Linked DNA regions of Homo sapiens: region 2 is linked to region 1. A link means that fine-mapping ties the variant in region 1 to the plasma level of a protein whose gene starts in the linked region. Region 1 holds a variant in brackets. A gene starts in the other region. All regions are shown on their forward strands.

Evidence for each region. A credible set is the group of variants that fine-mapping cannot tell apart. PIP is the posterior inclusion probability: the model's chance that the variant is causal. The UK Biobank Pharma Proteomics Project read protein levels with antibody pairs (Olink). The fine-mapping took linkage between variants from a reference panel, not from the people measured, so its PIPs are less certain.
Region 2: SLITRK2 starts here. The variant in region 1 is the best candidate, but not a certain one, in a credible set for the plasma level of the SLITRK2 protein (UK Biobank, PIP 0.62).

What each region holds. Positions count from the first base shown.
Region 1 is chr11:11,251,826-11,257,206 of GRCh38, forward strand. All of the region lies in intron 1 of LOC124902631 (a long non-coding RNA gene), which reads right to left. Among named protein-coding and RNA genes, the nearest start is that of CSNK2A3, 99 kb to the right of the region's middle. The variant G/T (reference allele first, on the strand shown) is at 2,716.
Region 2 is chrX:145,813,002-145,818,333 of GRCh38, forward strand. It overlaps SLITRK2 (SLIT and NTRK like family member 2), which reads left to right and starts at 4,828. Exons shown (of 5, transcript NM_032539.5): 1 at 4,828-5,025.

The sequences.
Region 1 (5,381 bases):
AAATCCACATGGCAGTTAGATGGCAGGTTGCAGGGGATAATGTTGCCAGCAAGGTATGCTGAGCCCTCAGCACTCGAAATTATTGGACTGTGAGTTTGCATTAGGGACCAATATAGGCACAGACACTGAGGCTAAAGAGGGTGTCTGGAATAGGGGCTTGCTGGAAGGAGCTGGGGTTCATGGTTCCAAGATATAGCTGCAGTCTGGCTATGGTCGGGAGCAACACATCCTGAGGGTGTCAGAGAAGGCTTCTTTTGGAGCCTTTAGTGGTTTGGGGCTGAGGCAGGGGAATTGATCAGGGACCTGGGGTAGTGCTGGCTTTAGAGTGAGAGATCCACGGGCCCAGCAGCTGGGAACTGCTGCCAACGGAGGCAGGGCAGATGCCGTAATGAAAAAGACATACAGTCCATTTAAGAGACAGCTAGTTAGTGAAGAAATTGCTCTGGAAGTAGAATATTTCTGAGGTGGATGCAGAATTTACAAGCTTTAACTATAGATCACATCATGTTTTCAAACACATTTTCCTGTGTTGACGATTTCACTTATTCTGCAGATTGTGCCTGATTCAAGAGCCATAATTCCTGCCATGGAGACTCAGGTGGTGTCATTTGGGTTCCCAAATTGGGTTTGTGTATTGCAGCTAAACGGCCATCTCTTAGTTTCAGAGAGATACCATTTGAAGATGTGCCATCAGCACTGCCACAGTGACAGATGAGAAGCCTCCCATCTGGTAAGGCCTTCCCCAGGCAGGGCTGGCTGCACACCTGGTAGGCCCCGTCTGCACCTGCTGGTGATGTCATCTTATGTGTGGTCTTCTGCTCTGGGGATGGCAGGCGAGTGCCTGCGGCAGCTGGTGTGCTGAGGACCCAGGCAGAAAGAGTCCAGAACGTGAGGGTCATATCTTATATCTAGGACAGCTGCCTCCAAGGTTCCCCTAACCAGAGCAAAGGGCAGAAGCACTGAGATACCCGCTGACACCCAGGCCGACCTCCCAGGGATCTTGGCTATCAGTGTGGGGCAGGGCACCCACAGGGATGGGGAGCCTGGATGGATCAGGCTTTGTGAGGTCACAAGAGGAGACAGGCACAAACAAGCTGCGGTGCAGGGTTATTATGAGTGTACATGTGAATATGGAGTAGCTTGGGATGTCTCTCCAACTGATACAACTTCCCTCTATCCCAGGGTTTCTGAGACTAGACTGAGCCACCAGATTCCTAGAGAACCCATAACTCAATGTCATTAGGCAGAGGACCTATTTTGGTTTTTTTGGTAATAATTTGTTAAATGGGACTCCACCCATTTTCTTGGAATTGGAAGAACCAAGGCTGAAATCTATAGGTGCTATATATCTGCATATTCCTAAATGGGACCGATGGATCCATTCTTTCAGGACATCACTCCAGCACTACCAGTCTGCAATAGCAGGAGATACAAGTTCTTTGGGGCTGTGAATTGCTAACATAGAGGCAGAGTACTGTGACTTCTCTTCCTTTTGGGAGAGGAGAGGAGGAGTGTTCTATACTCTTCCCCCAGTCAAATGAACGGGTCTCCAAGAAAACAGTGGGGCCCTAGGAAATGGGTGACTGCTGTCTCATGCCCTGAGTGGATTCCTACTAGGACACTGGGGCACCAGAGCCATCTATGTTGACAGGAGAAGGGGGGCGGGGAGTGGAGGGAGATGGTAGGCAGGGAGGAGGTAGAAGAGGTACAGCTCCTACTCCCCTGTTTGGTGTGGGAAAGAAGTGGACGTCCCGTGGGTCAAGAGGATCCTGAAAAGGCAGCTTGGCTGGTGCTACCTTCCCAACACCTCACCCAAGAGATTGTGGGGTGTGTCACTGCAGGCAGGAGAGGAAAGGGAGCAAACTTGGTCACATGCCTGCCTCTCAGAGGGTGCTGACTCCAGGAAGGTGCACAGCAGCACGAGTTGGCAAGAGACACTGGCCCCTTCCCCCAGTGTTTCTCCCAGCCCTGACTCAATGGGAAAGGAGGGTGGGGAGAAGGTGGAGGAGGAGTGGAAGAATGGCCACATACCCTTCTGCCTGCAGGTGTCCTGGGCCGGGGGCAGGTCTGAGCTAGGGAAGGGGAAGGATATGAGATGAATGCTTTAAACTAGACGCCCTAAGACTGGATTAAACAAAAATTATAACCCAAAGTGACCAGATGGCTCTAGTTTCTGCCCAAGATGTTGTTAAGAGATTGGAGAGGTAGATTCAAAAGGTTGAAGGCAGTGGTTGGAGAAAAACGAAACCCTTTCACTAAATTAAGAGCGTTTTCTGTATTGGTCTATGTGGGAGTTTTCCTACCGCGATCAGGAGGAAACTCTGAAACAAGAAAAGGGCCCTGCTTGCCTCTGGCCCAGGGGCCATTGCCCTCTGCTTGTGTACCCGTTGTCCCTTTCAATCCACTGTGGCCAGAGCTACAGGCTGACTTCACTGAAAACAGCCCCAACCCAGGGTCTCTTAGGAAGGAAAGCCCTGGTTCAGGCCCTTTATCTCAGAAGGGACACAGAGGCAGCCACAGGACTCCTCTGGCTGTCCATCCAGCATAGCACTCAGGTGGAGGCAGACAGGCATCTGCATAGATTCTAGTACAGGAAGGAGAGGTCAGTCAGACCCAGGGGAGACTGCGGAGGGAGGCTTGCCTTAGGAGTTCAGAGGGGCTTCCAGGTACCCTCTAGAAAAATGTATCCAGAACTGGAGACTAGGGGGCTGAGAT[G/T]AGGCAAAATTGATGAGATTTTAGAGCCTTGGTCATGGCCCCAGCTTTTTCCCTGCCCCTTACCTCCTGCCAACTTCCTTCTAATCAGGAGCAATAATAGCCTTAAAGGGCAAGGACCTGTGGGCTTGTGTTTGGGGATGTAAGAAAGGAGGAGAGTACATGAACCCCTCTGCAGCTGGGCTTTCCAGGAGGGGCACCCAGCTTAGGGGTGGGTGGAGCCCCTCAGGCCTGAGATTTCTGGCCTGGGACTGGCCACGGATGGGAGTGGCACAGTCAGGTGCCCCTGGACTCTGGAATAACCACCATGACCTGATGATGACGATAACAAGTTTAACTATTGAGTGCCAGGTACGAATCATCACAGCTCTCTGCCGAGACTCCTACTGTTATCTCCATTTCATAGATGAAGAAAAACCTCAGAGAGGCTGCCACACGGTGCAAATCCAGAGTCCATGCTCTCTTCTTTTTCTTTTTGTTTACCTCTTTCTCACTCTCTCCTCCTCCTTACCCATATTACCCCACCCATCTTCCCCACAACCTTGATTAATGACCTGGGATAGATCCTTCTACATTTTTCTCCATACATATAGTCCACTCCATCAGAAATGGGTTGTACAGTATAGACATCTTTTCTTGCTCACAATATCTCACAGAAATTCTCCAACTGACCTCATAAAGTCCCTCCAAATCAATTAGATTGCTATTTTCAGAGGTCATCTGATATTTCACCGTAGGGGTATATCATAAATTCTTCCCCATCCCTCCATGATAGGTGGTCATTTTTTGTTTGTTTTTCTTTTACCACTACCAACAATGCAGCAATAAATATTGTTATATTTGTCTCAGTTGACCAGAATTTTTCTCTCTAGAGGATAGATTTCCAAATTTGAAGTTTTGGGTAGTTTTACTTGAAACAGATATTGCCAAATTGATTTCTAAAAAGGCTATGGCAATTCACACTTCCACCAGCAATGCATGAGTGCACCTCTTTCCCACATCTGCACCAGCCATTACACTTGCTTTCATTTTGTTAGTCTGGTGAGTGTGAAGTGGTATCTAATTGTTTATTTTGGTTTTCAATTTCTTGACCATGAAGGAGTTCTAACATCATTTTATATACTTGCCAGAATTTAGTTCATTTTCTGTTTTTTGCCTATTTATTTGCTTGTCCAGTTAATTTTGGGTTGCCTTTCTTCTTAAGAATATTTCTTTTATAGATGTTAATACTTTATGTGCTATTTGTATCACAAATACTTCCTTCCAAATCTGTTATTTTGTTTATGGGTTTCAATTATAATACTTTTTACCATATAAAAGTTACAAATTTTTGTATTTCAAAAATTTCTTTTTTGTATTAATGTCCTTTTTCTTAAGAAGGTCTACCCAACACCTCGATTCTATATGTAGTCTCTAAGAACTCTCTTCTATGGCTTTTATAATTATTGTTATTTTTTACATAAAAGTTTTCAACCAAGTATGAAATTTATTTTTGTACAGAGCATAAGGGCTCAACTTATTTATTTTCCAAATGGATAGACAGTTGTGCCAGTCTAAGTGCCAGGGAGAGCTGAGAAAGTCAACAAGAGCTGAGACCTGAATTCTCTTGCCGATGGTTCAAGAGAGAACTGGGGAGAACAGGTGAAAGGTGATTGAGACACACGAGAGCCCTTGCCTGTACCCCCACTGCCCTGCAAAGAGATGCTTGGTCCAGGACTCAGAGATGAGCGAGGCAAGGGATGTCTCTATTGGAGGAGAAGGGGACAATAAGTACATCCTACTAAAGTATCATCTTTGTCATATTTTTAAATTCTCATGGTAGGATCTGTTTCTGGATTCCCTATTCCGCTCCATTGGTTTATTAGTCCATTCCTACTCCACTGGCAGTGTGTGTATGTGTGTGTGTGTGTGTCACAAAAATTAGATCACTGTGGCTTTAAAGATTAATTCCAATGTCTTTAGTGTTTCCCAGTTAAGAAAAATGTTTCTCTTCCTCTTTCTCTTTCTTCTTTTTCTTTCTTTATGTCTTTATTGGGAATATCTCAAATTTTATTAAATGAGTTTTCAGCATCTACTTATATAATCCTATGGTTATCTTTTAATATTTTGGCATAGTGGACGACTTTAATAGATTTCCTCATATTGAAACAACTTTCCATTCCTCAAGTAATGCCGCCTTAGTCATTGTAACTTTTTTGGTTACATTGGTTTCTATTCATTAATATTTTATTGATAATTTCTGTATTTATATTCATCTGTAAGACTGGTCTCTAGTCTATCTTTTTGTGCTGTCATTATTAACTTTTAATACTAACCTTATATAAACTTCATGAGATAAATTGATTTTTTTCCCATTTTTAGTGTGGTTTGGAATATTTTTAACATCAGAAATTATCTGTTTTTCAAAGGTTAGATAGAATTCAGGTGTTAAACCACCTGGCCTTAGCTCTTTTTTAATGCAAGTTCTTCAAAGTCTTTCCAATTTTTTCTCATGGTCACCCAGGATTTTGATTTCTTCTTGGGTCAATTTAGGTAAATTTGTATTTTACTAAAAAATTGTGCACTTTCTCTAGGTTTTACAAAGTATTGTTATCTACTTGTACATGCTGTTCTCTTACAATTTTTTTTGATCCTTGCTCTTAACTACTGTCCAGACTGTTATCCTTCTG
Region 2 (5,332 bases), not on the chromosome of region 1:
TTATTACTGGAAATGATTTTATTTACATTCTAGATCTTACTTGCCTCATTTCTAAACCTACAATTTTGAAACTCTGCTTCATTTTGTGCAAATCACAACTTCAGGTAGATCTGGGGTATGTCATCCTTGCCATTTTGTTCATATTAATAGACTAGTCCTCTTCACAAATGATGACATTTTTAAAAATCAGAACTACTTAGTGCAAATCCTGAGTAGCTGCTCCTCTGACCGTAACTCTTTAGAACTGGGCATCTTCTATGCAGACATTTTTGAATTTTCCAGCAGAGTCAGCATTAAACTCTCTACCACAGCACATACTTTACCATATATTTATACTAGCCAAACATAAATACATAAATAAAATCAACAGAACTTATTACAGAGGCTCAACTGCATTATACCATTCCAATAAAGTGCAATGTCAAACCTAATAAATTTGGCTTCCTCCTGAACACATTAGGTTGTAACTCCAAACCAAAATATGACTTCCAGCTGCAGCAAAATTCATAAGATAGAATGTGTCAGGATAGATGAAATACCTACTAATGCTGTCCTGAGCCTTATCTGTTAAATTTGTGGCTTTTGCCATGTATATGTGCTCCCAAGTCTAGTAAGCTTAAATGTGGTTCTTACTGATAAATCACTGGACTCAGTCAAAAAAGAGGGAGAGCCAGAGCCCTTAGAGAACAGGTATCATTAATAAGTGGCACTTGGTGTAATTGATGGGGGCACCATAAGTCTTTCTATAACTTTGTAAGACATGCAGTTGTCTTTTCCTTCTATTTCTGTACTTCCCCTCTTGATCTACTGCCTCTTTTCTCCTTTCTATCCCATTTTCCTTCCTTTCCTGCCCATTCCAGCGTGGCAGTGTTATTCAAACTGTAAGAGGCAATCTACAGTCACTCCTGAGTTCAGTTTAGTGGGCCACAGCCAAGCATTTAAAAAATCGACTACAATAGAATAATATTTCATTATATATTGTTATATTACTTATTACATTTATATAATTACACGTATGTATATATAGTATACATATGCACATTACACACACACACAAAAGCCAGTGACGCTGCTAATCCTTCTACATTGCATAGGGCAGCCCCCACAACAAATAATCATTTGACCAAATATATCAACAGTGTTGAGTTTGAGCCCTGATGTATACATATATGTAACTATTTGAAAACATCTGTAAAATGAAAGATGGAATTTTTTTGAAGTTATTTTAAATGTTTGACATTACATGGCTCCAACTAGAATCATAAATATTTTTTCTAATGCTAATTCTGTTATCCAACTTAAATTAAGATGTTGGTTTCTGACTAAAATCAACCATTTCACCAAGAATGGGAGTAAGGGTAAGTTACTTAAATTTTCTGAGTCTCACTTTCCTCTTTTGTAAAGTCTGGCTAATCATACTGGCCTGTTGAGGATTGTCATGAGAAACATAGAAAACAGATATAAAATATTTTGTATAACTTATTTATTTTAAGAAGTGAGTTAAAAATTTTTTTAGTTTAAGATTTATTTGCACATACATGTACCACCGTTCAATTTTCAAGAGTTCTGTATACATCCCATCCTTACTGACTCCACATAGCAGGTGCCAGTTTTACACATGGGGAACTGAAATTGGTGTAATGCTGTTTTTGTCCCATTGTGAGAAAGTAGCACGGGTGGAATTTGAACCCAGGTCATTGGGCTCCAAGGGCTTGGATATGTATTTGATTAAAAGAAAAACTGCCCTGGGTCTTGGCCCAGCACTATTTCAATCAGGCCAAAATGCCTGCCAAATAATCCAAATAATTGAATTGAATTGAAAAATATCCACCTTTTCAATAACATCAGGAACAAAAGTCTACAATATCCTGTAAACTATAATTACTAATATTAAGGGCATGTCCGCTTTGTTGCGTTTCTTTATTTAGGAATTTGTTCTGTGGCACTCTTCTTTGAAACCTTTGGTTGGAAAGAAACTATGTTCACTGAAAATGCAGCACATTTTGTCTTCTTTTATATGTTTTAAAGCTTTCTAGTTCTGGATAGGTGTGAAGAAGTTGAAAAAGCAACATTCTCAGGTAAATTACGTACTACACAGTAATAGGACATCCTTTACATCATCCTGGAAACATATGCGCTTTTTATCTCACTCATCGCAGGTGAAATTTCTGGTTTTCTTCTAACCTTAGAATGAAATTATAAAAACCCAGGCAAGATTTAGTTTTATTTCTCTGTTTTTCCACTAGTTTTCCAATCGGGATCTCTATGTTGTTTAGTAACACGAACTTCACAATAGAAAGTAGCTTACAGTAAACCAAACCCCCACCACATGCAATTTACCTATATAACAAACTTGCACACGTACACCTGAACCTAAAATAAAAGTTTTTCAAAAAGAAAACAGCACATGGATATAAAGATACATTTACAGTGCTAGTATAAAGAAGAATAATGTGATTTTTATTAATGAACAGAAGTACATTAATATGGTGTCTCTAGTATTCAATTCTATTTGGAAATTTTCCTCTAACACAGAAGCTTTTAGAAAATTCAGCATAAAGCAGCTTTCAAATAAATTGGCATATTTAAATTTTTCACAGACTTCAAACTCTCCTCCATTATAACTGTCTATGCAAAACCCTCTCAGAAAGTTTTATATTGCTCATCAATTTTCGTGTCTGTGCATTCAAAGCACAGCTATCCACCTACTTGAAAATTTTATGCTGACAAAAAGAAAAGTCTGCTCTTTTTAATTTTGTCTTACTATCAGTGTGGTCCCATGTGGAAAGGCAGGCTGCTAAATGCTTTTCGAAGGCTGGTGAACAGGTTAGACTTGCTTACAAGGCTAATTAAAATTGATGCATGCCATCTATTACATGTTACTACTGGATCTAAATAAAGTATCACTTTTCATCATTAATGCCATGTTCCTTCTCTACTCTGTATAGAAGTTTTTGCTTATTTTGTATGTTCCCTTTGGCTACAGACACATCACCCTTCTTAGTAAACTGTCTGAGTTTTTCAGCATGACTGTCTCATTATTTCTGTATTGGAATGGCCTCTTAGCTCTGTGTTTTGCAGTTGTTTATAACATCTACTAAAAGCGACATGAAAAGATGACACAGTCAGAAATACGGTAAAGACAGAAGTAACAGTATTAACTGACCTCATTTAGTTAATAATATGATGTGCTCAGTGCACTGCTTTTAGTCTGTAGCAAACAGCACATTGGATGTTTACACTAATACAGATATTGTAAAAAGAAGAGCAATGCTTCTGGATATATAACCGTACATACACTGCCCACGTGCTTATGTGAGAACTATGTTATTCCGAAGTTGCTTATCTGAATGGTAGGAAGATTTCAAAAAGGCTTTCTCAAGAATGAAATAAAAGGAACAGTAATGACCCTTACAACTCCGAAGATACGATTATAATTCTTCCGACTATTATTAAAGCAAACTCTGTACATCTTCATAATATAAGATTGCCAGTAGTTTTCTTTTTAAAAAGCCCAGCATAATCTCCTTAGAAAACCATTATGAAAGAAAGCCAAGAAGAGAGGACAGGAGAAGCACAAAAGATTCCCACGGGAAGGACAAGAAAAAGGTGGTTGTCAGTGCTGTGAGAACGAGTTGAAAGGCATGGGAAATATGGAAACAGACAAATTCCAATGCAGATCCACTAGCTGGAGAGGTAATTTTGCGTCTAATTTTGCACCTCTCTCCTCGCCTCCCCGTCTGCTCTCCACCATCACGCTTTTCGACAGTAAGAAGGATTTGGGGTTTTGCAGACTCTAGCGGGCATGAAAAGGATAGGGGGTGGCAACGACTTGAATTAATGACGTTCTCCTACAGGATGGAGGGGAAAATGACTTAGTGTCATCAAATGAACTCCCTACTCCTGGCATAAATTTATCAAACTGCAACTTTATCTCGAATACTCTGGAAGAGTAGAGGAGAGGCCCTAGAGAAAGCAAGTCTTGAGGGGAAACGCAATGCTCTTGGCAAAAACCGCACCTCCCTCTTGAACTACACTGACTCTTTTCACAGAGCGCCTTCCTTTAATAGAATCACAACCACCTGGACTACTAATAAGAGGAAGAAGAAAGGAGAAAAGGGAAGGGAGGATGGCAAAAATCACGCTCTAGAAGATCCAGGCAACGTCGTCGTGAAGAATAAAGGGAATCAAAATGGGCACTGGAACGCTGCTAAGGGCTTGCTTTGTTAACACACTTGCACAACTCAAGTTCAGCTCTATCTTATGTTGAAAGTCCTTGTTTACGATCCTCGTAGGAGGTTCTTAAATATCTGCCTGCGAACTCCCAAAGACTGGGCGCTTACTAGTTAGGGGAGGCAGCTGTCCCGGAGGGTGTCCAGCTCGGATGGCTGACTGCTCTTTCACTTGTCGTTAACTTCCACCCAGTAGTCTTAGTCTCCCCTTGGACATGGTACCGACCGTGTGCCATTCTTATTTCACTTGACCGAGCCCGAGCTGCAGCCCAGGGTGGAAGCCGCAAGGGCTGGGCAGAGTTCCAGGCAAGAGGGACCGAGAGGCGTGAGCAGTGCTCCGCAGCGCTTGTCAGAGAAATGGAGCAGCGGCTCCTTTGTGGGCTCTTACATCCCCGTCCTGGGTGCACAGCCCGGATATTTGATCTGTGGGGTGATTGATAAGTGAGGGAGAGGGGGGACGCGATCCCTCCCTCCCTCCTCCCTCCCTCCTCCCTCCTCACTCCCTCCTCCCTCCTCCCTCCCTCCTCCCTCCTCCCTCCCTTCTTCCCCTCTCCTCCCTCCCGCTTTACTTCCCTCCTCCCTCTCGCCTCCCTCCCTCCTTCCTGCAAGAAGCGTTGCCCGTTGGCTAGCTGCTCGGTGGGGATCTGCCTGCCCTGGGGGCGCCGCCCGCGCTCCCCGCGGTGCTCTCGCTCCTGGGCTGCGCCAGTCCGAGGCGGTGCCGGCTCCTTTGCCTCCCCGAGTCGCAGATGCTGCGGGCGCCTCCGGGAAAAGATCTGGGCGGCGCGCTCGCTCGGTAAGTTCTGAGCACTCAGGGACGCGGTGGCGACGCGGCCAGTGAGCCGGCTTTCCTCAGTCCGTTGCCTTTCCCGGCCACCTCTCCTTGCGAGGGGCACCAGCGTGGGGAGGCTGGGCGCCATCCGCGGAGGGCAGCTCGCTGGCGGCCGCCCTCTACCCTCAATCCCCACTGGAGATTCCTCACCCCGGGACCGTCCGCGCGGGCGTGGTCGGGCTCCGCGCCTCGCGCAGCGGGGTGGCACAGGCGGCCAGGGAGGGCCCACGCACCCGGCGCGAGCTAGAAGCCTCCGGTCGGCCTGCAGTGC